Linked DNA regions of Homo sapiens. The protein of the gene in region 1 purifies or fractionates together with the protein of each later gene. This does not show direct contact. Each region holds a gene or a part of one and is shown in the gene's direction. Other genes may lie near its edges. The genes, in order: PDE6D, TBC1D10A, RAB28 and LMNB2.

Region 1 (7,024 bases):
CAAATTTATTTTATTTCATTTGTTTGAGACGGAGTCTTGGTCTGTTGCCCAAGTTGGAATGCAGTGGCGCAATCTTGGCTCACTGCAACCTCCGCCTCCCAGGTTCAAGCAATTCTCCTGCCTCAGCCTCCTGAGTAGCTGGGATTACAGGTGCATGCCACCATGCCCAGCTAATTTTTGTATTTTTAATAGAGATGGGGTTTCACCATGTTGGCCAAGCTGTTCTCAAACACCTGACCTCATGATCTGCCTGCCTCTGCCTCCCAAAGTGCTGGGATTACAGGCATGAGCCACCGTGCCTGGCCTCAAATTTATTAATATTTGCCATCTGGCTTTTGCATTTTGTATCTTGTTTAAAAAGATCTTTCTTATCCCAAGATTAACTAAATATCCTATCTTTTCTTCTCTTTTCAATGTTTAGCTCTTTAATCCACCTGGAACGTATTTACACATTTGGTATGTGGTAGACATCTAAGTACTTCTGCTGTTTGGATAGCCAATAGTTCCAGTACTATTTACTAAGTAGTTAGTCCATCTTTTCCTCACTGTTTTGAAATGCCATCCTTGTCATATACTAAATTTTCATAAGACATAGGTTTTTTTTTGGATTATTTCTGTTTCATTGATCTATTTGTCTCTTCTTGTACCTATACACATTTGATTGAATTATTATAGCTTTATAATATGATTTAGTATAGTTTACAATAGAATGGTCTGTGACTAACATAATATGTGTGTTTAAGGTCCCTACAAATATGTGCCCCTTTTGTTCACATGGAAGCTTGCCCATATGCCCATAGTAGATAGAAACATGAGGACTTGGCTGGGCATGGTGACTCACACCTGTAATCCCAGCACTTTGGGAGGCCTAGGTGGGAGGATTGCTCAAGGCCAGGAGTTCAAGACCAACCTGGCCAACATAGCGAGACCCCCAACTCTAAAAAAAAAAAATTTAAAGATACTGCATAAAAGTGAATACTGTATGCATAAATTAGGCATGGTCTGAGTGAATTCAGTAGAAGCTTTGTATTTGCCATCAGTTGTTTCAAAAACAAAATCTTATAAGATTTTATTCTTGTATCACCTTCACCCCATCTCACCCTACCTCTTTCAGAGTATCTGTTTTTGTGAGAAGAGTTTATCACTACAAAAAGAGCACCATTATGATCTCCTGCCAACAGTGTTGATAGTACTCAGTTTTCCACGTTGACTAGGTCAATCTTTTTTATTTTTGCCAGTTTGGACAACACATTGTTTCGATTTGTATTTTCCTGGATCCCTAGATCCATACAAGGTAATATAGCATAGTGGTTAAGAGCTATACTGGACTGTGGCGCTATACTACCTCTCAAGAAATGCAAGGCTCTCATACACATTAAGAACCTTGCATTTCTTTCTTGTTTGTTAAAAGCATAACATTTCCTAATTGTAAATTAATGTTATGAATGAAATGTTACTTGGGGAACAATATGATTCTCCTGCAAATATTTTGGATTTGATTATTTTAAGCAGCTGACATAGAGATTGATGTTTGTAAATCCCACGTTTCCCATTTCGTTCCTTCAACAAAGGTCTGTTGGGTGACTATTATGTATAGGGCACTCTACACTTGAAGGATACAAAAATGAATAACTTACAGTCCCTTCTTTCCAGAAGCTTAACCAGCTTTATGTCTGTTTAGAAGGAATATCTTCAAAAGCAATGCATTTTTTAAAATTCTATTTAATTTTCCTATTACAAACGCCAGCCACCTAGAGTGACCTTTGTAAATATTATTTAATATAGCCTTCTAATGTAGCTAATGTTTAATGTGTTTTTTATAAAAATGGAATTGTAAATATCACTTTGTAACTTACTTTGTTCACTTAATAATAGATTTACCATGTTTATGATTTCCAAAGATAGTTACTTTCAGTTGCTTTCACTGACAGATTTGTCACAGTACTCTTTTTTTTTTTTTTTTTTTTTTGAGACGGAGTCTTGCTCTTGTCACCCCGGCTGGAGTGCAGTGATGTGATCTCAACTCACTGCAACCTCTACCTCCGGAGTTCAAGCGATTCTCCTGCCTCAGCCTCCCAAGTAGCTGGGATTACAGGCACCTGCCACCACGCCCGGCTAATTTTTGTATTTTTAGTAGAGAGGGGGTTTCGCCATGTTGGCCAGGCTGGTCTCGAACTCCTGACCTCAGGCCTCCCAAAGTGCTGGGATTACAGGCGTGAGCCACTGCACCTAGCATTTGTCACAGTACTCTTATACTAGCTTTCTAGTATAGTCTGTATCTACTGTTTTGCCTATTTGAATAGCTTTTTCATCAACATAAAAATATAACTTTATTAAATTAACAAGAAACTGACAGACTTCCATAAGAATGAATTATGCTTTTATGATTTCATTATCTTTAATCCATCTGAATTTTCTTTGGTATAAGATACAGAGTAGTAATGTAGCTTTTTTTTAATATTGGCTTATTGTCTCCATTTATTTATTTAATTCATTTATACGTCAGATATTATAATATCCAGAATATAAATGGCTGCCTACAAATCAATAGGATAAGCATTTAACTCAAAGTGGACAAAGGATATGAACAAGCAGTTCCTAGAAGAAAAAGCAGATGACCAATGAATAAATGAGGACATGCTCAACCTTGTTAAAATAATAGACTATCTTCCGGGTGCAGGGGCTCATGCCTGTAATCCCAGCACTTTGGGAGGCCAAGGTGGGTGGATTGCTTGAGCCTAGAAGTTTGAGACCAGCCTAGGCAACATGGCAAGACCCCGCCTCTACAAAAAAAAAAAAAAAACACACACAAAAATTAGCCAGGTGTGGTGGTGCATGCTTGTGGTCCCAGCTACTGGGAGGCTGAGGTGAGGGGATCACCTGAGCCTGGGAGGTGGAGGTCGCAGTGAGCCAAGACTGTGCCCCACTGCATTCCAACCAGGGTAACAGAGTGAGACCCTGTCAATAATAATAATAATGGACTATCTCTTCCCAATTAATTGACACAGATTTAAAAGATTGATAATATATATGTATATCCTGAAAGTGGCACTGTACGAAAATAAAATTAAAAATTAGGCCAGGCACAGTGGTTCACGCCTGTAATCCCAACACTTTGGGAGACCAAGGTGGGCAGATCACTTGAGGCCAAGAGTTTGAGACCAGCCTGCCCAACATAGCAAAACTCCCTCTCTATTAAAAATACAAAAAATTAGCCAAACTTGGTGGCACACGCCTGTAATCCCAGCTGCTCAAGAGGCAGAGGCAGGACAATTGCTTGAACCCAGGAGGCAGAGGTTGCAGTGAGCTGAGATCACACCACTGCACTCCAGCCTGGGCTACAGAGTGAGACTCTGTCTCAAAAAAAATAAAAATAAAAATTTATTAAAAAAAAAAAAGATGCCAGGCACAGTGGCTCATGCCTGTAATGCCAGCACTTTGGGAGGCCAAGGTGGGCGGATTACTTGAGGTCAGGGATTCGAGGCCAGCCTGGCCAACATGGTGAAACCCCGTCTCTACTAAAAATACAAAAATTAGCTGGGCATGGTGTGGACAGCTGTAATCCCAGCTATTATTAGGGTGCCTGAGGCAGAAGAATCACTTGAACCTGGGAGGCCAAGGTTGCAATGAGCCGAGATTGCACCACTGCACTCCAGCCTGGGTGACAGAGAGAGACTCAGTCTCAAAAAAAAAAAAAGATAATATTCAGTGTTCACAACATTGAGGGAAAGGGGCACTCTCATTTGGTTTATGTGTGTGTGTGTAGTGTCTGTAGAAAGTAATTGGTATCTATCAAATGTTTACACATTACTGCAGTAGAGTATATAGCACAGTGGTTGAGAGTATGGGCTCACTTCCAAGGTTTAGACTTACTGCCTCTGCTATTGTGACTCTCAACAGAACACTCAGACTCTGAGCCTCAGCATCTGTATCTCATATTATCAGAGGGTTGTTTTGAGAATTAAATGAAACTGCATAAAAGATGTTTGGTTCAGGGCCTGGCATATAGTAATATCTGCTGCCATTCATTTTATTAATAATTACTAATAATAATGACAGGCCAGGTATAGTGGTTCATGCCTGTAATCCCAGCTCTTTGGGAGGCCGAGGTGGGTGGATCACCTGAGTTTGGGCATTCAAGACCAGCCTGGCCAACATGGTGAAATCCCGTCTCTACTAAAAATACAAAATTAGTCAGGCGTAGTGGTGTGCACCTGTAATCCCAGCTACTCGGGAGGCTGAGGCAGGAGAATTGCTTGAACCCAGGAGGTGGAGGTTGCAGTGAGCCGAGATCACGCCAGTGCACTCCAGCCTGGGTAACAGAGTGAGACTCCATCTCAATAATAATAATAATAATAATGACAATAGTGTTAATATGATTGTAAAGCTACTTATTTCTCTGAGATATAACTAATGCCTTCATTCTAGTTATATTTTCTTACTGAAAAACTATCGTATTTCCATTTTGCCTCTGAATAAATGATTCAATAAGCATTGATATATACCTCATGTTTATCTTGTCTAGAAAATGAATCTCATTCTAATTTATGGCAGGTTAGCAAAAAGAGTTTGGGCTCAGAAGGTTTCTGAAAGCATCTTTCACTTGTTTTCTTACATTTCTTCTCCCATAGTTTGGTCCTGGAATCCCTGTATCTTCTTTCTCATAGTACCTTAATCCTTGACTTTGCTTCCAATCAAAAAACAGTTGGCTTTACATCTTCTATTTACTCACTTAGAATAAAGAATAAGAATAGTAGACATATTAAGAAAAGTCGACTGTAGAACTTCTCTTGAAAGTCAGTATTCCCTGGTACAGTTGCCTTGGCCAAATGTTAAAAATGAATTTGAGGTTTATTATTTCCCATAATATAGGTTTTGTCTGACAACCCAAAGTCTTGGAAAGCAACCAGACATACCACTCATAAAGCCCAGTTTCATGTAGATTGTGATTGGTAGCTTGTTTCCTCATGCATGGACTCTTGAGAGTTTGTATTGTTATCCTGAATGGATTAAATGAATATAATGTCCTATTGATTATCTTAGGATTCTTTTTTTCTTTTCTGCGACAGGGTCTCATTGTCATCCAGGCTGGTGCTATCATAGCTTACTGCAGCCTTGACCTCCCAGGCTCAGATGATCCTCTGCCTCACCCTCCTGAGTGCCTGGGTGCACAGGTGTGCACCACTATACCCAGCTAATTTTCGTATTTTTTCTTTGTAGAGAAACGGTTTCACTATGTTGCCCAGGCTGGTCTTGAACTTCTGGGCTCAAGTGATTTGCCCACCTTGGCTTCCCAAAGTGCTAGGATTACAGACGTGAGCCACCACGCCCGGCCTTACTTAGGATTCTTAAACAGGCATTCCTGCTTTTGTTTTTTGGAAGGAATTTAGTGTATAATTAGATATTTATAGTCTTCTACTGACTTTCTAAGTTTCTTGCCAGGGTTGTGTATATGGTTTATAATGAAACATTACAGTAACTTCTGGAGAAATGGGACAGAACACGGTAAAACTGTCATGGAGAATTCCAGTTGTATCACCACTACATTTGATAAAGGACTAGCAATGGTTCTGAGGCTTGGAAGCTCTAGGTTCTTACTAGGGTTGACCTCAGTTTTGCCTCCCAGGCCTCACTTGTCAGCATTCTGCATCCACAAATCCTCGTGTTATGAGAGGATTTGACTTATAGACCTATCCCTCTCTATTCCTGAGCTAAAGCCTAGCATCATAGGAAGGAATTTTAAGGCCATCTTCTCCAGCAGCCTGACTATTCTAATAATTGCTTGAATGCGTAAAACTCAAATTGTCAAAGTTCTGAGAGCAGCATTCTTTTTTGCTTTTGACCTGCTTATAATTTTGGAGCTGGGAAGAAAAGCAAATATATTTCTTACAGTCCAATATCCACAAAGATTTCAATGGATTGGACTAAAGCTTACTGTTTATGGCAAAGAAGGCGATGGTCTCACCGTAGGACACATGAAAGCTTGTTTAGTCTACTGCAAAGGGAGGCAGGGGAAAGTGGAGCTGGTATAAAGGTGGGCCACTTGAAACATGGCATACATTCAATAATGGGGGAACTGAAGGGAGTTTAACCTAAAGATGAAAAGAGTTGGACAAGAGATATGAGTATTCTCTTCTAAAGTTAAAAAAAAAAAACAACTGTTCTAAAGAGGAAGAATTAAATGTTGCTGTGTAGCTCTCAGAGGAAGTACAAGATTTGCGGGGTAGAAATTACAGGTGACAGAGTTTAGGCCAGTTTCTAACAATTAGTAGAATTACCTGAAAAAAGACATTTTCCAGAAAGTGTTTTAAGCAGCAGATAGATGCCTGTCTGTCAAGAGTGTTGCAGAGGGAAATTTTGTATGTATCAAATGTGTATTACAGTAGATGATCTACAGAAATACTCAAATCCTTTTCCAGCACTACAATTCTTTGATTTGGTGACAGCCTTTCTTACTTAACAAGTACTTTTTTTGGCAAATGTTTATATTGAGATATGTTCTACACCTAAAATCGGCAAAAAGTTTTTTTGTGACCCAATTGTTTCCTTTTTGTTTCTGACACAACTCTGAGACACTCAGTATTGAAGTGTTTGGTTTAGTGCATTGTGGATACAACTGATTCAGAGTCAAGGAGAGCAATTATTGCCTCTGAATTTAGATAACATTTAGAGAATGAAACATAAATAGCTGTAATATAAATTAGCACTGTAAATATAGCCACAAGAAGAAACAGCATGGTCTAGTAATATCTCATAATTCTATACTGCTTTTCGGTTTTTAAAGAACTTTGATATATTACTGCATTATCACAACAACCCTATTCATTGTTATCCTCACTTTATAGACTAAGGAATTGAGGATCGACGAGGCAGTCACTTAGACGAAGGCAGAACCTTAATTTAAGCCTTGTTTTGTCTTTTTAAAAGTCCATGTTTTCTACAGTATACCATGATGCCTCTCTGGAGAATTTATTCTTTTGTTGTTGTATTATTAATTTTGAGTTTTAAATTTTTCTCAGCTTGG
Region 2 (7,263 bases), on another chromosome or scaffold:
ACAGAGCAAGACTCCGTCTCAAAAAAAAAAAAAAAAAAAAAAAGGGCATCTGGACTTTTGCTCATGGCCAGTGCTCACAGGTTTCCTGAGCACATGCCAACTGCACATTCCAGGATCCAGGAGAGGGGCCTATGTGAGATCCTCAAGCCCAGCTGTTGGGAATGACCCCAGCAGGATGAGACTCTGGGATATCAACACATTCTATCTTCAAAAGAATGTCTCCAACAGCCAGTTCACCAGGATGTTCCACAGCATTGCCTAAGGCCTCTTAAATTCTTTATTCCAGTGAACCACGTGATTCTGCAGGGCTCCTTTCTGATCATTTATTCATTGGTTCACTGTTGCCCTTGCTTTCTCACTCCAATCTAACAACACAGCCTCCTTCTCCTTCAAGGGGAAAATCATCTGCTGCCATGCTTGTACACTATTCTCAGTCCTGCAGAAGGGGTCCCTCATTTTCAGCCCATACCACCTCCCCAACACCTACTCCAGCATTCTCCATACCTTACCTGGCTTTATTTTCTTATTCTCACTACCTGATAGATGTTCTGTGCTTGTTCATGTTGTCCCTCCTCCACTGGACTATAAACTCTATTGGGCCAGGACTTCATCTCTCTTATTCACTAGAGCAAGCTCGTCCAACCCATGGCCCAGGAGAGCTTTGAATGTGGCCCAACACAAATTTGTAAACTTTCTCTTTTTTTTTTTTAGACAGAGTCTTGCTCTTTCGCCCAGGCTGGAGTGCAGTGGCGCCATCTCGGCTCACTGCAAGCTCCACCTCCCGGGTTCACGCCATTCTCCTGCCTCAGCCTCCCGAGTAGCTGGGACTACAGGCTCCTGCCACCACGCCCGGCTAATTTTTTGTATTTTTAGTAGAGACGGGGTTTCACCGTGTTAGCCAGGATGGTCTCGATCTCCTGACCTCATGATCCGCCCTCCTCGGCCTCCCAAAGTGCTGGGATTATAGGCATGAGCCGCGCCCGGCCCCAAATTTGTAAACTTCCTTAAAACATTATGAGATTTTTTTTTGCAATGTTTTTTAACTCATCAGCTATATCGTTAGTGTATTTTATGTATGGCCTAAGACAATTCTTCTTCCGGTGTGGCCCAGGGAAGCCGAAAGGTTGGACACCCCTGCACTAATGTCTGGCTCATTATAGGTGTATTAAATAAAGAACTCTGGAGTTTGGCCAGGCATGGAGGCTCACGCCTGTAATCCCAACAATTTGGGAGGCCAAGGCGGGAAGATCACTTGAGCCCAGGAGTTCAAGACCATCCTAGGCCACATAGTAAGACCTAATCTCTACAAAAAAATACAAAAGTTAGCAATTTCACACAAGGACACCCAGTTGTTGAGGGGCACAGCCACGAAGTGAAGTCTCCCAAGCCACGTGCCATAGGTTAAATTGGGCAAACTCCCCCGCTGCAGCCACAGGCTGTGATGGGGAACACTCAAGACAATAATGAATTTGCAATTCCTTTTGCAAGCTTCAAATGCCACCACTCCTGGCCATTATTTATTTATTTATTTATTTATTTATTTTGAGATGGAGTCTTGTCTGTCACCCAGGCTGGAGTGGTGTGATCTCTGCTCACTGCAACCTCTGCCTCCCAGGTTCCAGCGATTCTCCTGCCTCAGCCTCCTGAGTAGCTGTGATTACAGGCGCCTGCCACCACGCCCAGCTAATTTTTGAATTTTTAATAGAGACGGGGTTTCACCACGTTGGCCAGGCTGGTCTCGAACTCCTGATCTCAAGTGATCCACCCACCTCAGCCTCTCAAAGTGCTGGGATTACAGGCATGAGCCACCGCGCCCAGCTCCTGGCCATTATTTACTGGGCTTCTCCATGTGCCAGGTGTTTAGCGCATACTGTCACACTAAAGTCTCAGCACAATTCTTCCAAGGAAGAATTTTTTCAGAATTTCCAATTTATAGATGAGGAAATGGGCTCAGAGAGAAGTAATTTGCTCAAGGTCACAGAGCATAAATTCAAATCCTGGTGGTTTGATTAAAGAAAATTAGAAGCTGAAGCATCACTGGAGTAACATCTATACAGTCTCCTAAAGATGAACACTCAGGGTCTCTAATCTACCCCCTCCCCAAATATCCCTGGGGTGAACGTCTCTATATTTGTGCCCTCACAGAGCTGAGTAAGAACATGTTTGGGATATAACCCTAGGGATAGAATCATGAAGTCAAAGGGTCGTGGATACTTTTCTTTGCTGTACTTGAGGCTTCACATCTGCCCCAGGTATGTCTGGCTCCTCCCCCTCCCTTTCCTGGGATAGGCCCATACCACCATGAAAGACCCATACCGCCCCTCCTGGGAGCTGGGACCAGGAGCCCACCACTGTCTGGAGTCACTGAAGAGAAGGAACATCCTCCTAGACTGAGGGTTTAAGACCAAAATAGCCTGTGCCCACTCCCATGTCTGTTCTTGCCTTGTTTATGGAAAGCCAGAAGCTCATGGAATGTGAGGATTGTACAATGACGCCATCAAGAATGTCCAGGCCACATGGCATCAAGGTGAAATCACTCAAGGCTCAAGACCCCCTCTTGGGGCTTGCCTTGGGGCCCTGAATAGTCTGTCCCAGGCCCTGCAGCCAGGTCTGAGTCTTCCAGTCCCTTCCCCTCTCTAGGCCTGTCTCTCCCACAGGTCTGCAGGGAGTGTCAGATGACAATATACTGTGACTTGTAAACCATAAAGTACTAGACATAAGCGAGGAGCTATCATTATATTATAGATCCAAGAGTTGACAATCTCTAGGGTCAGAAATCAGCTGCTTGGGGCTAAGCCCATATAGATAAAATCGGCCCATCCCTCCAAATATAGGCAGTTGGTAAGAGCTAAGTTCGAATCCTGGCTATATTCACAGCTAATTCTGGGACCTTAGGCAACTGACTTTACCTCAGTCTCCTTAACTGTAAAATGGGACTAATAATGGTGTATACCTCATTGCTAAGAGATTACAAGACATGTTGCAACCAATTTGGAAAACAGTTTGCCAGTTCCTCGAAAGGTTAAACAGTTGCCATATGACCCAGCAATTCCACTCTTCCTTATCTATCCAAGAGAAATGTAAACATAAGGCCCCCACACAAAAGCTTGTACCTGAATGGTCAGAGCAGCATTATTCATAATGGCTAAAAACTAGAAACACGCGAATGACCATCACTGATGAATGGAAAAACAAAATCTGGTATAGTCCCAGCTCCCAGGAGGGGCAGTATAGGTCTTTCATGGCGGTGTGGGCCTATCCCAGGAAAGGGAGGGGTGGAGTCAGACATACCTGGGGCAGATGTGAATCCAGAAGCACTGATACATGCTACAATGTGGATGAAACTTGAAAATGTTCAAGAGAAAGAATCCAGACATAAAAGGCCATATATTGTATAATTCCATTTATATGAAATATCCAGAAAAGGGACATCTATAGAAACAGGAAGCAGATTAGTGGTTGCCAGGGACTGGGGGAGCCAGGATGCGGAGTGACTGCTAATTGGTAGGAGTTTCTTTTTGGGGTGATGAAAATGTTCTAAAATTAGAATGTTGTGATGGCTGCACAACTCTGTAAATATGCTAAAAATCATTGTACACTTTAAACGTGAATTTATGGTATGTTTATGTTCCATAAAACTGCTGGGGAAAAGACTACAGGAGAAAGTAGGTAGAGCTTCGGGCGTGCGTGGCTCAGTAAACGCTGGTGATTATTAATAATTAGGTCTCACGAGGTAATTTAAAGCCCCAGAAGCAGTGAGTGCAATGGGACTGCCAGACTTCTGGCTCAGGCTGGGCCTTTAAGCCGCTCTGCGTCCCTGAACTCACTTGGGCCTCCTCAGAGTTCCTCATAAATGAATGGGGCAAACAATCCCTACCACGTCCTTGGGGTCTCGCAGGGAGCGGGGCTCAGGAGGCAGATGAGGAATCCATGGAGGAAGCCCTGGGCCTCCGGCTCGCGCTCTGCAGTAGGTGACAGGCCCCGCTTGGAGCCAACCCGGAAAGGCCCGAGCTCGTCCAGGTGAGTTCTTGTGATTGGCAGCCCGGAGGAGGGCGGGGAGGGCTGCGGTGACGGCTGCCCCGCCCCCTCACTTCGGGCTTGTTGGCGCCCGCCGGGGGAGGGTGGGCGGGGCCCGGGGTCCGCGGCGCCCATTGGGCGTGGGGGGAGAGCTCCGGGGTGGGCCTGGAGCCCCGCCCCCCGGCCTTGCGGCGGCCAATAGGCGCCGCGCGTGGGCGGGGCGTCGGCGGCAGCAGGGCGGCTGAGGTGGCCGCTGGAGCTCAGGCGGCGGGCGCGGCTGGGATGGCGAAGAGCAACGGAGAGAATGGGCCGCGCGCGCCCGCGGCCGGGGAAAGCCTGTCGGGAACCCGGGAGAGCCTGGCCCAGGGCCCCGACGCCGCAACCACCGACGAACTCAGCTCTCTCGGGTCTGACTCGGAGGCCAACGGCTTCGCCGAGCGCCGCATCGACAAGTTCGGCTTCATCGTGGGCTCGCAGGGCGCCGAGGGCGCGTGAGTAGCGCCGGGGGTCGGGACTGAGCGCGCCACCCACGCGAGGGGCCTCGACACGGACGGAGGCGCCCTCGGGACTTGCCGACACGTCCCCCTCCCAGGCAGGGACCACTAATCCCCGTTCCCTCCCCTGCCCCACCCCCACCACCCCTGCCTTCCTAGACCCGCCCCCTTCGCAGTCCTACTTCCGACCCAGGGGGCGGACGGGCCCACACCTCCACCCGCCACCTCCACCCTCCGGACAGACTGACCCGCTCCCAGGAAGGACCGACTGTGCCCTCCTTCCAGCCGTGGAACAGAATGACAGACTGCCCCAAACCCACCCCTGCCGCCAAGACCTTAGGGATGATTGTTTCTGCCACCCCGACAGGCTCCCAGATGGCTGGCGCCCCCCTCCATAGACACTCATTCTCCATCTTTCCCCCTCCCACAAACCCACAGACGCCCTTGTCTCCCCGCCTCACTGCCCCCACACCAGGAGACCTCAGACCGACTTCAGGACTGACTGCCCCGCCCCCACCCCTTCCCAGGACAGACTGACCCTTTCCTCGAGGCATACAGACCTCTGGATGGACAGACATTGGTCACCTCCCTCCCCTCAGCTCCATCCTGGGACAGACAGTCCCTTCTCCTCATGGAAGGGTCGGAGAAGGGCCCCCTATCCGCTCATACACAGCTTCCTCCACTGGCACTGGCAACAGGTGGGCAGGTACTCCCCCTTCCCAGCACGTACAGGGCGACAGGGAGCCCCACCACTAGGACAGACCATCAGCTCCAGCAGCCACAGGAGCCAGTAGATGGGCTCTGTGTATGTCCTGTGTATGTATGCGCCTCCTCCCAAGGGCAGATCTTGGGCGTGGGACGGGGGCAGGCAGGGAGACAGCAGGGTCCCTGCTCATATTAGCACCCCCCGATGTCCTATCCCGAGAGCACCCAGACACCCAGCTAGCAGACAGAGAAATGTGGGGCAGTGGAACAGCACCTTGCCTCCAAGCTGGGCCCCATGTTGCCCCACAGAATCCCCCGAGCCCAGGCCTCAGAGATCATGTGTACAGGCTGGCGGTCCCCTTAGGAAAGATGGACTCCATACCCCACTCCCATCCCAGCTGTCCTGTCACGTGAGACCAGTGTTGTGCACAGAACTGACAAGACTCCCTCCTGATGTGTGCTTTCCATCCCAATCACCAGTAGGAGCTCCTGGGGCCCTGCCATGACCCTACTCCAGAGAATATCCTTTCTCCCTTTCTCTGACCAATTGAGATTGTCCAAGGTCACCCCAGACTCTCTCATGACTTATGGAAGCGCTTTAACTGTCTAAGAACCCCTGTCACTTCCGGGATTTTCCCCAGCCCTAAAGCCTCTTATTCACCAGGCCTCCTTCTTCCTTGGAGAAATCCAGGCCCCTCCCCTAAGGGGAGTTCCCTCTCACCCACTGGATCTGTCTCCTCCAGTATCTCCCTACTGGCTCACAGCAGGCTAGGTTTAGTCCAGGACTCAGAGAGAGCACCCCTCATTCTGAACCCTCACCCTGACTGATGCTTTGTCACAGTTCCCCAGGGATTCACTTGTGAGAACTTAGTGGGGACCTGGAGTGTTTTGAATTGAGGAGCAGTCACCTGGGATTAGGACCCAGGGAGGTGTGTGGTCTTGAGATCTAGGAAAGGAGTTCCCAGTTGCATTTATGGGACCTTGGAAGGAAGAGCTCAGATTTGTGGGAGAATGCTAGGGCATGAGAGTTCCTACTACATGCTTATCAGGCAATCAACCAGATCTTGGGGTGCAGAGCAATGTGATATATTAGGAAAAGGCCAAACTTAGGAATTACACTTGCTAGCTTTGTGACCTTGGGCAAGATCCTGAATCTCTGAGCCTGTTTACTCACTGTAAAGGGCGACAGTAACACCCACTTCCCAACATTACTCTGGGGGTTAAATGAGTATATGATACGTGAAGGTGCCTGGCACAGCGCTTGTCACAAGTAGCGGCCCAGAAAATGTTAGTTTTCTTTCTTTCCTTCTAAGGGTCTGAGAAATGAAGAGAAAAATGAGGGCATATCTCTGGTATTTGTGGGCAGAGTGAGGCCCCAGTGGAAGCACCTCCCTTTGGCTGTAGTCCCCAACCAGGCAGCCAGACATCTGTCTTTCTTACCCCACAACCACAAACCCGGGATGTGGCTCTGCAGACACCCTCTACATGGCTGCTGTCTGTAGGGCTGGGGCTGAGGTGGGATCCCAGCTCCAGTCCTCTCTCCTTCCCTCACTTTCTGGAGCCTGTCAGTCAACCTAAAATCTCTGGTATCTGAAAGCTTCGATGTTCCCTACTTAATTTATATTGTGGTTTCAAAAAAGCCAAGAGTAAGTCCCTGCCCAAGGCCATAGAGGGGAAGTTATGGAAAGCTTCAGGGTGACCGCCCTGAACCCAGTCTCGTGGTTGAAGGCTAGGAGTCCATGTTCTATGCTAGAGAAGTGAAACGTTAGCCCTCATGGGTACTGTGGAGATGGTGGGGACTCTGACTCCAGATTAAAGGTCCATTTCAGCTACCCTGGGCCAAAGGTTGTCTTAAGACATTTTGGATGTGGAAGTTGCCAGGCCTGGGGGTAAGAAAGCAGGTCACAGGCTACCTTACTGAGGTGACTATTAGCTACATGGCATGAGTAGATTAAAAAAACCATAGACTGCACTGTAAGGGATCTTTTTTTTTTGAGACGGAGTCTCGCTCTGTCACCCAGGCTGGAGTGCAGTGGCGCAGTCTCAA
Region 3 (7,477 bases), on another chromosome or scaffold:
ATCTATTTGTATGACGTTTACAAGCTGGTAAAACTAATGTACAGGACTAGAGATCATAATAGTAATCATTGAGGAGGTAATAACCGAGAGGTGGCATGAGGGAGTCTGCTGGGATTCTGAATTGTTCTATGTCTTGATTCAGATGGTGGTTAAACATACAACATGCACATGTATATCTATGTAGATGTGCATACAACCCATGGGAGAACAGAATTTTAGGAAGAAAGCCTTATTTTTTAAAATTTTGTCCTCAAGGAGTTTAACAAACCAATTAATTCTAGGGATTAGTTCTGTATTTTTCTTAGTTTTTCAGCAGAACTATACAAATACAGAAATACCAAGTGTACAACCTGGAAGCATGGCCAGTATTTAGCCTTACTCAGACATTAGTCCTAGGATCTACATCTTCAAAATTGTGAAATAGTGCAAAAAGATGAAAACTGATGGATGACATTGGATTTGTTGAGAAGATGTCAGAGACTGGTAGTTTCTGAAATTAGTTCCTTCCTTGATTCGTTTACCATTTTCCCACCTTCATTATTGATGAATAATAATGTTAAGATATTTTTACTCTATTTCATCTGTCACCTGTTTTACTATCTTTTTAATGTACCAGAATATGAAACTGTCTTGATGATTTACTAAATATCTGTGTTCATCCTTATATTAGTTATCTATGGCTATTGTAAAAAATTACCATAAACTTGGTAACTTAAAAGAACATAAATGTATTCTCTCACAGATCTTGAGGTCATAAGTCCTAAATCAGTGTCACTGCACTGAAATCAAAGTGTCAGCAGGGCTGGGCTACCTCCAGAAGCCTGAGGATAATTTGTTTTTTGCCTCTTCCAGCTGCTAGTGGCTGCCAGCACTCGTTGGCTAGTGGCTGCATCATTCCAGTCTCTGTCTCTGTGGTTATATTGCCTTCTCTCTTATAAGGATACATGTGATTGCATTGAGGGCCCACCAAATAATCCTGGATAATCTTCCCATCTCAAAATCCTTAACTTAATCACACCTGAAAGATGCTTTTCCAAATAAGGTAACATTTACAGTTTCCAAGGATTAGGACCTGATATCTTCATGTGGCTATTATTCAGCCTACATATCCCTCTACCAGAATGTAAATTCCATGGGAACAGAGCTTTTGTATGTTTTTTTTCACTTATGTGTTTTCAGTGTTTCGAGGAGTTGTGAACAAGAATGCCTGGTACACAGTAGGCAGTCACTAAATATTTGTAAATTTAATGAAGTTTTGTTTGTTTGTTTATTTTTGGAGACAGGGTCTCATTGTGTCATCCATGCTGGAGTGCAGCGGCATGATCACTGCTCACTGTAGCCTTGACCTCCCAGGCTCAAGTGATCTTCCTATCTCAGCCTTCCAAGTAGCTGGGACCACAGGCGCCTACCACAATGCTTGGCTGGGTAATTTTTGTTTTTTAAAGTTCTTTTAGAGACAGGATCTCCCTATGTTGCCCAGGCTGGTCATGAACTCCTGGGCTCACGTAACCCTCCTGCCTCGGCCTCCCAAAGTGCTGGGATCACAGGTATAAGCCACCATGTCTAGCAGTCACTAAGTATTAATGAATCACTTTGATCATCTTCCTGTGGAATGGGGAGTTTTCGTTTTATTGAGAAAGACATACCTATTATCATTAGCTGTAATTTATAGTGATAAGCTTTGGCTCATCATCAGAGATAATATTTTAATAACCAGGCCTATCCATCTACAGGCCAGGTTGCTTCATAAAGGAAGAAACTCCTTGAATGTGGACGTATTCAAATAAGGTTTGAATAATTATCTGTTAGAGATGCTATAAAAGATATTTTATACAATGTCTAGAATTCTTATAAACCTTTTGTCTATTAGTTTTAAAATGACTGAAGACCATTCCTCTAATTTTTGACCCTGTTAAGAGCATTGTACATGAGAATCCACAAAGATATATTCTTTTTGGTGGATCAGCTCTATGTTTCTTTAGTATGTCAGAGTATCATACTGGAAGCTCTCAATGCTAAAATGGTCCTCCTCACATAGAAAGTTTTTTTTTCTTTTTCTTTATAAAAATGGCTCTAAGTCTTTAAATTCTAACTTTTAACCCAGAAACTTGCCATATGTGTAAAATATGATCCCTAAAATAGTGCAACTTTTTGTTTTATATAACACTATCCTATTGATGTACCCATATCCAAATGAATGTTGTCTCTCAATCAAAGCAGTCATCTCAGAAATTGATGAGTGGAAAATGAGAAGCTTTCTTCTAGATTTCCCTTCATATAAAACCACATATGAAAATCAGGCCTATGAGTTCAGCTAAATCTAGTTTTTGGCCGAAGTAGTTATGTCAGTTGGAATTTTTTTGTTTGTAGGTAACACAATTCATCGCCAAAGTACCATATTATTATTTCCCATAACAAGAAACCGAGAAGATAGAGTGAACAAAGTGTAGTAGTTCCAAAAATCCTGTTCTTACCTAATAATGACAGCAAAGGAAGGGAGGAGGAGGACTCCCCTGTAACTCTCCTTTTTTCTTTTCCTTTTTTTTAAATGGTGGGGGGAGGGTTCTTTTACAAATGTCTTCCAAAGGACACTGTCTTCTGTCTCATTAGTCCGGTGGATCACATAGCTATCTAAGGAAGACTGGAAAAGAAATTTTCTTGCATTTTAACTGCCCTCATGGACAAGAAGTGGTTAAGTCTGTCCTCACTGGAAGTAGATTCTTCTCACTAACAAGTACATATCCTCTTTCTTCTAATTCTTATGAATAAATCTGGTGAATAGAAAATTGGTGGTGGCAATGGTGGTGCGGGATTGGGGAAAGAATTGGGTACTAATACTTAACTGGGTACCTATAATTGTGGGCCAGCCCTCTCTGCAGATGAAGAGACTGAGGCTCTACATAAGAAACTTGTATAAGGTAAATTGGCTAGAAAGTAGTGACACTTCCAACACGGACCATCATCTAATTATGATGATGATGAGGGTGATAGTTACACTGGTTAATATTGAGTGCTTACTACACACCAGGCATTGTGCTATCTACTTTATGCCGATTATTTCATTTAATTTTCAAACCTACACAAAGGCAGTAGTCTGTTCTACAGGTGAACTAACTGAGGCTCGAGGACACATATCTAGTAAACATGAGATTAAACTCCAGTGATGCCTCTAGGTCTGGGCATTTCTTTACACTGTTCTGCTTTCCTGTTCTAATGCCCATATGGTCTCCAAGACTACTGCCTCTGGGCTAAGCATTTTGTTAACTTAAGATACTTCATCTGCAAAATGGGGATAATTATACTTCATAATTCCTAATAGTAGTAAAGGTAACAATAAATTTTAAGTGATTAACAATGAAACAACCATAGCAGGACAGCATTATTATTTTTGAATTTACCTCACTAAATTGTAAATTTCATTTATGCCGTTTACCTAACGCTCCTGGACTGAGATTATCCAGGGCAGCAGTTCTTAAATTTTTTGGACTCAGGGCCTCTCTATAATGTTAAAGAATTACTGTGACCTCCAAAGAGCTTATGTTTATGTGGGTTACACCTATCACTACTGCATTGAAATGAAAACTGAGAAATGTTTAAAAACAACAAACGCAAGCTCCCTTAGCTGCCAGTGATGACGTCGTACACAAAGCGTATCCTCCAGGAAACGGTATACTAGTGAGAGAAGGAACGTGAGAAAGACAGACAAGGTGTCCGTATTATTATGAAAATTGTTCTGAGGTCATCGGGATTTCCAGAGGTCCCTAGACCACACTTTATGAGAACTGCTGCCTTAGGGTAAAGATGGGGTGCCAGGAGGTTGGCGATCAGTAGCGTCTGATGAACGAACCATGGGAGCCTGGGGTTGTTCAGATGAGGAAACCAAGAGTTAGGCCGAAATAAGCAGCGCCGGAGCTCCACTGTATTCACGGCCGCTACTGAGGCTTCCCAGCAGCCTCGGCCCTTAGCAGCTGTCCCCTCATCCGCCCCGAGGTACCCTCTTCCCTGGTCCGGTTTTTCAGGGGCCCTCTCTGGCGCTCTCCGCCAGGCTACGGGCGTCCCGGGTGCCCGGAGACAGGCCCCGCCCCGCCGCCGGTCCTCGAACTCCTGGCTGCCAGGCAACCCTGGCGCGTAGCCCGGGCGTCACTGCTCCACCCCGTCAGGCTGAACCATTCCCTTCAGAGACTTTCTCAAGAGGGAAGGAGAAAAGGGAATTTGATGGAACGCCTGAAAGCTGCTCTGCTCCCGTTTTCTCTCCTTAATTTGAACGAACACTTCTTTTCTTCTTCTAGCCAACTGTCTCCTGAAGGGAAACGCAGCGCCTCGCCTCTCCCGCCGGAATGTCCCCCACACCAGTCCAGGGCCGCGAGTGGTTCGGCTCGTCAGGCGGGGCCGCCGGTCGGCGCGGGTTGGCTCTGAGGCGGGGGCGCGCGCCCGACGTGCGCGTAGGGGGCGGGGCCGCGCGCAGAGGGCGGGGAGGTGGGCAAGATGGCGCTTGCCGAGTGATTCTCCTCGAATACCTCCTGCCGGCGCGGAGACACCGGGGCGGGGGTCCTGCCGCAACTACCTCCCTTCCTCCTCTCCCCCGCCCCCGGAGCCTTCATCCTTCCCTTCCCCCCCCACCTCGAGGGGCGGGCCTGGTTCCCGGGACACCATGTCGGACTCTGAGGAGGAGAGCCAGGACCGGCAACTGAAAATCGTCGTGCTGGGGGACGGCGCCTCCGGGAAGGTCAGTCCTCGAGCAGGCCCGCCGTCCCAGGCCTGCAGGAACCCCGGCGGTCCCCGGCCTCCTCCCCGCCGCCCGGCGTCGCCTCGTTACCCCGAGCCCTCGGGCTTCTAGGCCCGGGCCCTTCTGGTTGTGTGGCCTGAGGCCGGACACGAAGTGGGCGCTTGGTGAAGGCCGACGAGAGCTGTCCAGCTCCCCCTTAAAAAAGAGTCACTTCCTAACTCCCCGCCTGGATTGCGAACTCCTGCAAGACTCGGGCCAGCCTTTCAGCTTCCCGCCTCTCAGGACTGGCAGGGATTTGCCAAGGCATCTTAGCTCCTCTTACTTGTAGTCTGGGTCACACTTACTCCTCCCCTCCCACCCCCTTTACCGTTTCTGATGCTTCTACTGCATCGTGAGCTCCCAGGAGCGTAGCTCTGGAATCAGTATTCCCCGGGTGAGAATTGGGGCTCTGCCACTTAGTCGTCGGGTCATTGGAGGGCAAATTGCTAATCAGTTTAAGCTTCATCTGTAAGATGGGTATTGAAAAGGGCCGCCGCAAAGGGAGAAATGTGAAAATACATATTAAATGTGAAAATACACATAAAACCTTTAGAGCACAGTGTCCACTCAGTACACTCTAGTTGCTATTTTAATATCATACCTGTTCATCACCTCTGTTTCCAGCTCAGCACTCGATACAAGCAGTCAGTCAACAAGTGTTTATGGAGCTCCTGTTACGGGTAGGATGCTGAGGGTAGAGCTGCTTGCGTGACAAAAGGGATCCCCTGTTCGAATGAATGAATGCGGGCGTGAGAATATCAGGCAGCGTCAGTCTTATTATCTCCTAGGCAGGGGCTCCTACCCCAAGGCTGTGGAACTCCTGAAATGGAGTAAATACTGCCCGGTACGTGCTCTGGGGAGAGGGTCCATAAGATCTCAGAGGGGTCTATGATCCCTCCACCAGCAAATAGTGAAGAGCCTCTACCCGGATGCCTTCTTTCCCATGCTTCTGTCAAAGGCGCCAACACTTTCTGGGAATATTGCTAAAGTTTATCACCCCTGTACTCCCCTTCCTTATCCCAACCATAGTCTAAAGAAACCCAGGCTTTTATTTCCTGTTTAAGGCTTCACATTTCCCTGTTGCTGGTTGCATTTCGGACCCTGGTTTCTCTGGTGACGACTTCTCTTTGCATCCTCCCTGACAGTTGGCACTGCCCAGATACCTGCTTCTGCCTTTGGTTCTGACATTTGAGTTTCGAGGTCACCTGGGAAAGATGTAAAATTTTATATGCAAAATTTGAAGTATTTTTTTGTTTCTTTCTTGTCTTCTTGGATCCTTTGTTACAGATTTTTAAAGCTGAGGAAAACAATATGCTCTGATTACCTTTAAACGTTGGGGGAAGAAAGGAACTTGGGGTAACTTTTCTTTATAAAGTATATTAATTTTTGTATACTTAGTAAACTTTTCGAATGAATGAATTGCTATAAATAAATCATTGTTTCTAACACCTTTATTCAATAAAAAGTTTGTTAGATTTTTATAGTTTTCTCATCATTTAGATTTTCTTTTGAAGGCCGTCTAAGGTTTTGGCTCTTAAATTTTACTGTATTCAATTCATAACTGATCTTATTTCCCATTTAAAATGATAATGACAACTCATAACAATACATTTGTAAAAAGACACAAAAATTGCTGGTTATCCTATATGCTATCATAATTCTTTAAACTGTTGTTCATTTTTCTAACAGTATTTATTGTACATATATTACTTAGTGAAATTTGTTCATAATTTTGCGTCTGAGTTTTTTATTTAGCCTATCATACATGTTTCCTCTTTGTTGCTAATTTAGTGTGAATAATTATGGTTTTTTATCTCTGTTTAAAATTTTTTCTTGTATAGGACAGGATAATTTTTTCACTTCCATGTTTTTGAATTAGTATTATCATTCTGCTTCAAAGGATAACAGTTAATATTTTTTATGGTGCTCTGACTTAATCTTCATTATCTTGACTAAATAACTTATTTTAAAACTGTAACAGCTTTTTCTAACAGGAACTTCCAGACACAAACATCTGACACCTAACCTTCTTTCATTATTCTTAAATCAAGAATTTTTTTCTCCATACCCTATTCAGTTCTCAAATACTTGGCAGCCACCAACATTCCCATTCTTTTTCCTTTATTGTTCTTTTCTTTGTGAACTCAGCCTCTCTTTCATTCTTACTTGTATCCTGATTTAACTCTTGGCTCTTTTTTCCTGGCATTTGTTTTTCCTGCTCAATCTAACTCTGAGCATTTTTCAACACACTGACAGATGCAATAGAGTATTGAGATGATGACTAACAGTTTCTCCAAGAGAAATTTAGCTCCTCCTTCCAGTATCACGTGTTTCTATTTCTTTCCTTTTCTGATTCATATTTTTTCTTTTATTACATAGTCTCTTAAGAGCTTTTTGAGGCAAAATATTCTTTTTTTTTCTGTCTTTTCAGTGTTTGTAAATGTAGCATGGTTAAAAAATGTTAGTAGAAATTTACCAAGTCAAAAATGTTAGTAGAAATTTTCCAAATCAAAAAATATAAAGATTCAGATAAAAATATTTCTGATATGGGAGCTAGTTGTTCACTTAATACCTGTAATTAAGAAGGGTATTTATACAGTGACTTGAGAAATTATTGAATGTGAAAGATAGCATGCAGTCTAGATAAGTGAAGAGAAAGTGACCCCCACTGATTCAGTTGATTCTCTGTTCAATTTTTATCTCAAGACATCG
Region 4 (7,024 bases), on another chromosome or scaffold:
CAGATCACCTGAGGTTGGGAGTTCGAGACCAGCCTGGCCAACATGGAGAAACCCCATCTCTACTAAAAATAAAAAATTAGCGGACGCTGGTGGCGCATGCCTGTAATCCCAGCTACACAGGAGGCTGAGGCAGGAGAATTGTTTGAACCCGGGAGGCGGAGGTTGCAGTGAGCCGAGATCACGCCATTGCAATCCAGCCTGGGCAACAAGAGCGAAACTCCAACTCAAAAAAAAAAAAAGGCTCTAGGGAGAGTCGGGAGTGCATTCTGCTGGGCAGGAGAGGTCCCTGTCACTTCTGACCTCTGGCCACGGGCTCGAGCCGCCTGGATGTGGATGTTCTTTGAATGTCCAGCCAGCAGCCTTGGCTGTGTTATTCCAGATACACCCAGTTGTCCCCATCCTGGGGTGATTCTGTCCCCAGGGGACACTGGGTGATTCCTGGGGACACTTGTGGTTGTCAAAACTGGGCAGCAAGAAGCTCCTGGTCTGAAGTGGGTGGAGGCCAGGGACAGTGCTCAGCACCCTGCAGTGCCTAGGACCACCCCAAATGTCAGCAGTTGTGACGCTGCGGAACCCTGGATGTCCTCACTCGACCACCCCAAATGTCAGCAGTTGTGACGCTGCAGAACCCTGGGTGCCCTCACTCAAGACCACCCCAGATGTCAGCAGTTGTGACGCTGCGGAACCCTGGGTGTCCTCACTGTTTCTTGGGAGGATATAGTTAGTTCCCTGTCGGGAGGGGGTAAAATTCAGCTCCAAGACTTATAATTATGCTTAAAAACATTTAAGAGTCAGCCGTACGCGGTGGCTCGCACCTGTAATCCCAGCACTTTGGGAGGCTGAGACAGGAGGATTCCTTGAGCCCAGGAGTTCGAGACCAGCCTGTGCAAACAAGTGAACCCCTGTCTCTTAAAAAAAAAAAAAAAAAAAAAAAAAAAAAAGCTTAAGTGCCTACAATCCACACTGGTAGTATTTGTGTGTTTAAAAAGCCTGAGTATTTGCTATCTTAAATATCTAATGTTGGAGCTAATTTGGTTTAGTGGAAAACCAGGTGAGCCTGCTTCAGACAGCTTAAGTTTACAAACAAGGCTGACCCTTCAAAGGCCAGGGTCTTTGTAACATTTACAGAGGATGCATTAATTTCTCCCCAAATGGTCGTCCTGGGTCCAGAACAGGCAGGAGAGGCTGGGAAAGCCCATGCCTCCAGGGTGGTCCCAAGCGCTGGTGCCTGTCACTTGCTGGACTCCTGACAGTGCAGGGCAGATGATGAGGGCACGTGTGCCTTTGCCTGGGCGCGTGGGGCCGCGTCGTCTGCAGGACGGGAAGGTCTGGGGCTCGGAGGCCTCGGTGACCTTGTCTTTGGGCTTGCCTGACGCCCCCTGAGGTGCTCCCTGTGGCCCCATGGACCTTGCCCCTCCCCACTCACTTGCCCTCTTGACTTTCAGCGCCAAGAAGAGGGAGGGCGAGCTTACGGTGGCCCAGGGCCGTGTGAAGGACCTGGAGTCCCTGTTCCACCGGAGCGAGGTGGAGCTGGCAGCTGCCCTCAGCGACAAGCGCGGCCTGGAGAGTGACGTGGCTGAGCTGCGGGCCCAGCTGGCCAAGGTAGGTGCCAGGAGCCACGGGACGCCCCAGCAGGGTATATGCAACAGACAGATTGTCACACCAGCTCGCTGTCCTGTGTCTCCCAGGCCGAGGACGGTCATGCAGTGGCCAAAAAGCAGCTGGAGAAGGAGACGCTGATGCGTGTGGACCTGGAGAACCGCTGCCAGAGCCTGCAGGAGGAGCTGGACTTCCGGAAGAGTGTGTTCGAGGAGGTGAGTGAGTGGCCTGGCCTCCAGCCTGGCACAGCGGAAACGCAAAGTCCACCCTCATGGCTGTGGAGGGCGGAAGCCTGAGGGCACCGTGTGGCCGGGGTCCCTCCCACGGCTCTAGGGAGGCTCCTTCCTGCCTCTTAGGGTGCCCTTGGCTTCGGCTGCGTCTCCCCAGTGTCTGCCTCTGTCTTCCCGCGGCTGCCTCCCCTGTGTCCATACTCTGTGTATCCTACAAGGACACTTGTCATTGGATTTGGGGCCTGCCTGGATCATCCAGAGTGACCTAATGGCATCTGCAGAGACCCCATTTCCAAATAAGGTCCATTCACAGCTGCTGGGGATCGGGATGTGGGCACGTCTTTTTTTGAGATGGAGTTTCACTCTGTCACCCATGCTGGAGTGCGGTGGCACGATCTTGGCTCACTGCAACCTCCGCCTCCCAGGTTCAAGCAATTCTCCTGCCTCAGCCTCCCGAGTAGCTGGATTATAGGCGTGCACCACCATGCCCAGGTAATTTATGTATTTTTAGTAGAGACGAGGTTTCACCACGTTGGCCAGGCTGGTCTCGAACTCCTGACCTCAGGTGCTTCATCCGCCTCGGCCTCCCAAACTGCTGGGATTCCAGGCGTGAGTCACCATGCCCAGCCAAAACATATCTCTTCAGTGTCAAGGAAGGTCTATTTTGATTTCTTGCCTTTCTAAAAGCTTGGTGTTCCCACCCTGAGAGCTGAACCCTGGCCGCCTGGGATCCTAACTGCTAGACCATGAGGCAGGCGTCAGGTGCATCTTCTGGGTGCCACCGTCCAGCCTCCCACAGGGCCTCCTTGTCCAAAGCGAGGGTGAGGCCCGCTCTCCCCACCCAGCCTCCTTCCCTGACCTGCAGCCCCTCACCTGGGGCCTCTGCCTCCGGGGGCTCGGAGAGGGGAGTGGGGAGGAAAGGCGTCAGCCTGTGTCCTTTAGAACCAATTGTGCTGTCACAGTGCAGGGTGGAATGCCGGGGCCGGCCGGGCCCACACTCCCTGCCCAGGGAGAGCTGCTGGCTGCTGGTGGAGGGATGTCCAGGCCGCTCAGGAGCTGCGCCCCGCTCTGGCCAGGCCCAGGGAGTGGGGGGGGCCCCACAGGAGCCAGAGGGGAGGCCGCCAGGGCAGTTGTGAAGGGGCCTGTGGGGAAACCTGTGAGACAGCCCGTGAAGAGACTCACGAGAGCTTCTGTGCGGGGGCCCAGGAACGTGCCCCAGGTGGAACCCACAGGGCACCTGGGAAAAGACCCACGAAGGCGGTGCAGGGGCCGGGAAGAGGCCCTGGAGGGGCCCTCACAGGGAGCTGCGGTAGGGAGCTTGATGATGCAGGCCTGTGCAGCCCACAGGGTGCGGAGTCCTGGAGAGGGCGGCCGTGGGGGCGGAAGGGCGGCCGTGGAGGTGGGTGCGCGGCTGTGGTGGCGGGAGGGCGGCCGTGGAGGTGGGTGCGCGGCCGTGGTGGCGGGAGGGTGGCCGTGGAGGCGAGAGGGCGGCCGTGGAGGTGGGTGCGCGGCTGTGGGGGTGGGAGGGCGGCAGTGCAGGTGGGTGAGCGGCCGTGGAGGTGGGTGCGCAGCCGTGAAGGCGGGAGGGCGGCTGTGCAGGCGGGTGCGCGGCCGTGGAGGCGGGAGGGCGGCCGTGGAGGTGGGTGCGCGGCCCGCAGGGCTCTGCTTGCCTGGGCTACCCGCCTTGCTGACTGCAAAGGTGGCCAGCTTCCTTCAGAAGCGTTTCTACTGTTTTTGTTTTGTTTTGTTTTGTTTTGTTTTGTTTTTGAGATGGAGTCTTGCTCTGTTGCCCACACTGGGCCCAGCCTCCCGAGTAGCTGGGATTATAGGTGCACAGCACCACACCCAGCTAATTTTTTTCTTTTGAGACGGAGTCTTGCTCTGTCACCCAGGCTGGAGTACGGTGGCATGATCTCAGCTCACTGCAACCTCCGCCTCCTGGGTTCAAGCGATTCTCCTGCCTCAGCCTCCTGAGTAGCTGGGATTATAGGCGGGTGCCACCAACCCGACTAATTTTTGTATTTTTAGTACAGACGGGGTTTTCACCATGTTTGTCAGGCTGGTCTTGAACTTCTGACCTCATGATCCACCTGTCTTAGCCTCCCAAAGTGCTGGGATTACAGGCTTGAGCCACTGTGCCCGGCCTAATTTTTGTATTTTTAATAGAGATGGGGTTTCACCATGTTGGCTAGGCTGGTCTCGAACTCCTGACCTCGTGATCTGCCTGCCTCAGCCTCCCAAAGTGCTGGGATTACAGGCATGAGCCACCACGCCTGGCCCGCTTTCTTCAATAATGGCTTTTATAAGAGAGAGTCACTTTTTTTTTTTTTGAGACGCAGTCTCACTTTGTTACCCAGGTTGGAGTGCAATGGTGCGATCCTGGCTCACTGCAACCTCCCAAGGTCAAGCGATTCTCTTGTCTCAGCCTCCTGAGTAGCTGGGACCACAGGTGCCCGCCACCACACCTGGCTATTTTAAGTCCACCTTTTTAAAGTGTACAGTTCAGCATTGGCAGGATCTCCACAGGGTTGTGCAACCACCACCTCTAATTCTAGAACATTCCATCACCCAAAAAGAACCCCCTCCCCATCAGCAGTCCCCAGCCCTGGCCCCCACGCATCCCCTCCCTGTCTCTGTGGATGGGCCTGTCCTGGACATTTCAGGACATTTCATGGAAATGGGATCACGCACCGTGTGGCCTTTTGTGTCTGGCGTCTCTCATTGAGTGTGACGTCCTCAAGGTGCATCCATGCTGTGGCGGTGTCAGAGCCTCGCTCCTTTTCGTGGCTGAGTCACGTTCTAGCGCGTGGACGGCCCCTGGGTCGCCTCTCACCTGCACGTGTATCGGTTTGTAACTTGTGCACAAGGAACCAGGAATTGCCTGGAGGTTCCTCTTGGCACATTTTTGAGCCCTCCCTTGGGCCTGGTGCTTGGGGCCCAGGCGGGACCAGAGGGTCACGAAGCCTTGGTCCGCAGGAGGTGCGGGAGACGCGGCGGCGGCACGAGCGGCGCCTGGTGGAGGTGGACAGCAGCCGGCAGCAGGAGTACGACTTCAAGATGGCACAGGCGCTGGAGGAGCTGCGGAGCCAGCACGACGAGCAAGTGCGGCTCTACAAGCTGGAGCTGGAGCAGACCTACCAGGCCAAGGTGTGGCCGGCAGGCGGGTGGGCGGGGGCGGCCGGTGGGAACCCCGCCCCGCCCCGCGCCCGCACTCACCCGCCCGTCTCCCCACAGCTGGACAGCGCCAAGCTGAGCTCTGACCAGAACGACAAGGCGGCCAGTGCGGCTCGCGAGGAGCTGAAGGAGGCCCGCATGCGCCTGGAGTCCCTCAGCTACCAGCTCTCCGGCCTCCAGAAGCAGGTGATGAGCACAGCGCCACCGTCTGCCGTCCCCCTGGCCCAACTTCTGGGCCCTGCCCTGGATGTGCGGGGCGTGGGGCTCTGGCCTCTTGGCATCGGATGCAGCCCTCGGGGCGCCCAGCGATGCCCCTTCCCTCCCCTCCCGTGCGCCCCATGCCCAGGCCTGGTCTCTGCCCCAGTCTGTGGTGAGGGCCCATCTCCCGCAGTCCCAGGATCACCTGGGCCTTGTGACCCATGGGCTGCCCTGACCTTCGCCACCCGCCCCCTCCGCAGGCCAGTGCCGCTGAAGATCGCATTCGGGAGCTGGAGGAGGCCATGGCCGGGGAGCGGGACAAGTTCCGGAAGATGCTGGACGCCAAGGAGCAGGAGATGACGGAGATGCGGGACGTGATGCAGCAGCAGCTGGCCGAGTACCAGGAGCTGCTGGACGTGAAGCTGGCCCTGGACATGGAGATCAACGCCTACCGGAAGCTCCTGGAGGGCGAGGAGGAGAGGTGCGGCAGGCCAGGAGGCTTGGGAGCACAGAGTGAGGAGGAGGGGCAGGGCAGGAGGAGAGGCGGGACGGGGCTGCGGGGAGTGCTGGGCAGGGGTGGAGGTGGGGCCGGGCCGTGGCCGCCACTCTGCGTGCCCTGGGCTGTCTGGGGCTCCCACTACCAGTCCCACCTTCCTTGCCTTCCCCACAGGCTGAAGCTGTCCCCCAGCCCATCCTCGCGCGTCACCGTCTCACGAGCCACCTCGAGCAGCAGCGGCAGCTTGTCCGCCACCGGGCGCCTGGGCCGCAGTAAGCGGAAGCGGCTGGAGGTGGAGGAGCCCTTGGGCAGCGGCCCAAGCGTCCTGGGCACGGGCACGGGTGGCAGCGGTGGCTTCCACCTGGCCCAGCAGGCCTCGGCCTCGGGTAGCGTCAGCATCGAGGAGATCGACCTGGAGGGCAAGTTTGTGCAGCTCAAGAACAACTCGGACAAGGTGACCGGAAAGACCGGGGCATGGGGGTAACGGGGTGACCCAGCTGATGGGGGTGACCAGGGTCAGGGTGACGGGGCTGCCGGCCAATGCGAGGCAGGGGACAAGGTGACCGGAATGACCGGGGCATGGGGGTAACGGGGTGACCCAGCTGATGGGGGTGATCAGGGTCAGGGTGACGGGGCCGCCGGCCAATACGAGGCAGGGGACAAGGTGACCGGAATGACCGGGGCATGGGGGTAACGGGGTGACCCAGCTGATGGGGGTGACCAGGGTCAGGGTGACGGGGCCGTCGGCCAATGCGAGGCAGGGGACAAGGTGACCGGAATGACCGGGGCATGGGGGTAACGGGGTGACCCAGCTGATGGGGGTGACCAGGGTCAGGGTGACGGGGCTGTCGGCCAATGCGAGGCAGGGGACAAGGTGACCGGAATGACTGGGGCATGGGGGTAACGGGGTGACCCAGCTGATGGGGGTGATCAGGGTCAGGGTGACGGGGCCGCCGGCCAATACGAGGCAGGGGACAAGGTGACCGGAATGACCGGGGCATGGGGGTAACGGGGTGACCCAGCTGATGGGGGTGATCAGGGTCAGGGTGACGGGGCCGCCGGCCAATACGAGGCAGGGGACAAGGTGACCGGAAAGACCGGGGCATGGGGGTAACGGGGTGACCCAGCTGATGGGGGTGACCAGGATCAGGGTGACGGGGCCGCCGGCCAATGCGAGGCAGGGGACAAGGTGACTGGAATGACCGGGGCATGGGGGTAACGGGGTGACCCAGCTGATGGGGGTGATCAGGGTCAGGGTGACGGGGCCGCCGGCCAATGCGAGGCAGGGGACAAGGTGACCGGAAAGACCGGGGCATGGGGGTAACGG

The links.
Region 2: the proteins of PDE6D (region 1) and TBC1D10A purify together in Homo sapiens (affinity purification with mass spectrometry; 2 studies listed by BioGRID and IntAct, with this or other methods). This does not show direct contact.
Region 3: the proteins of PDE6D (region 1) and RAB28 purify together in Homo sapiens (affinity purification with mass spectrometry; 3 studies listed by BioGRID and IntAct, with this or other methods). This does not show direct contact.
Region 4: the proteins of PDE6D (region 1) and LMNB2 purify together in Homo sapiens (affinity purification with mass spectrometry; 2 studies listed by BioGRID and IntAct, with this or other methods). This does not show direct contact.

Annotation. Positions count from the first base shown.
Region 1 is NC_000002.12:231,771,267-231,778,290, reverse strand, and holds part of PDE6D (retinal rod rhodopsin-sensitive cGMP 3',5'-cyclic phosphodiesterase subunit delta), read left to right. Parts: intron 1-7,024. UniProt on the Homo sapiens protein: Promotes the release of prenylated target proteins from cellular membranes. Modulates the activity of prenylated or palmitoylated Ras family members by regulating their subcellular location.
Region 2 is NC_000022.11:30,323,918-30,331,180, reverse strand, and holds the start of TBC1D10A (TBC1 domain family member 10A), read left to right. Parts: upstream 1-4,239; 5' UTR 4,240-4,299; coding exon 4,300-4,508; intron 4,509-7,263.
Region 3 is NC_000004.12:13,481,325-13,488,801, reverse strand, and holds the start of RAB28 (ras-related protein Rab-28), read left to right. Parts: upstream 1-4,461; 5' UTR 4,462-4,651; coding exon 4,652-4,726; intron 4,727-7,477.
Region 4 is NC_000019.10:2,432,953-2,439,976, reverse strand, and holds part of LMNB2 (lamin-B2), read left to right. Parts: intron 1-1,445; coding exon 1,446-1,602; intron 1,603-1,688; coding exon 1,689-1,814; intron 1,815-4,805; coding exon 4,806-4,976; exon of another isoform or gene 4,977-5,063; coding exon 5,064-5,189; intron 5,190-5,461; coding exon 5,462-5,682; intron 5,683-5,871; coding exon 5,872-6,151; intron 6,152-7,024. UniProt on the Homo sapiens protein: Lamins are intermediate filament proteins that assemble into a filamentous meshwork, and which constitute the major components of the nuclear lamina, a fibrous layer on the nucleoplasmic side of the inner nuclear membrane.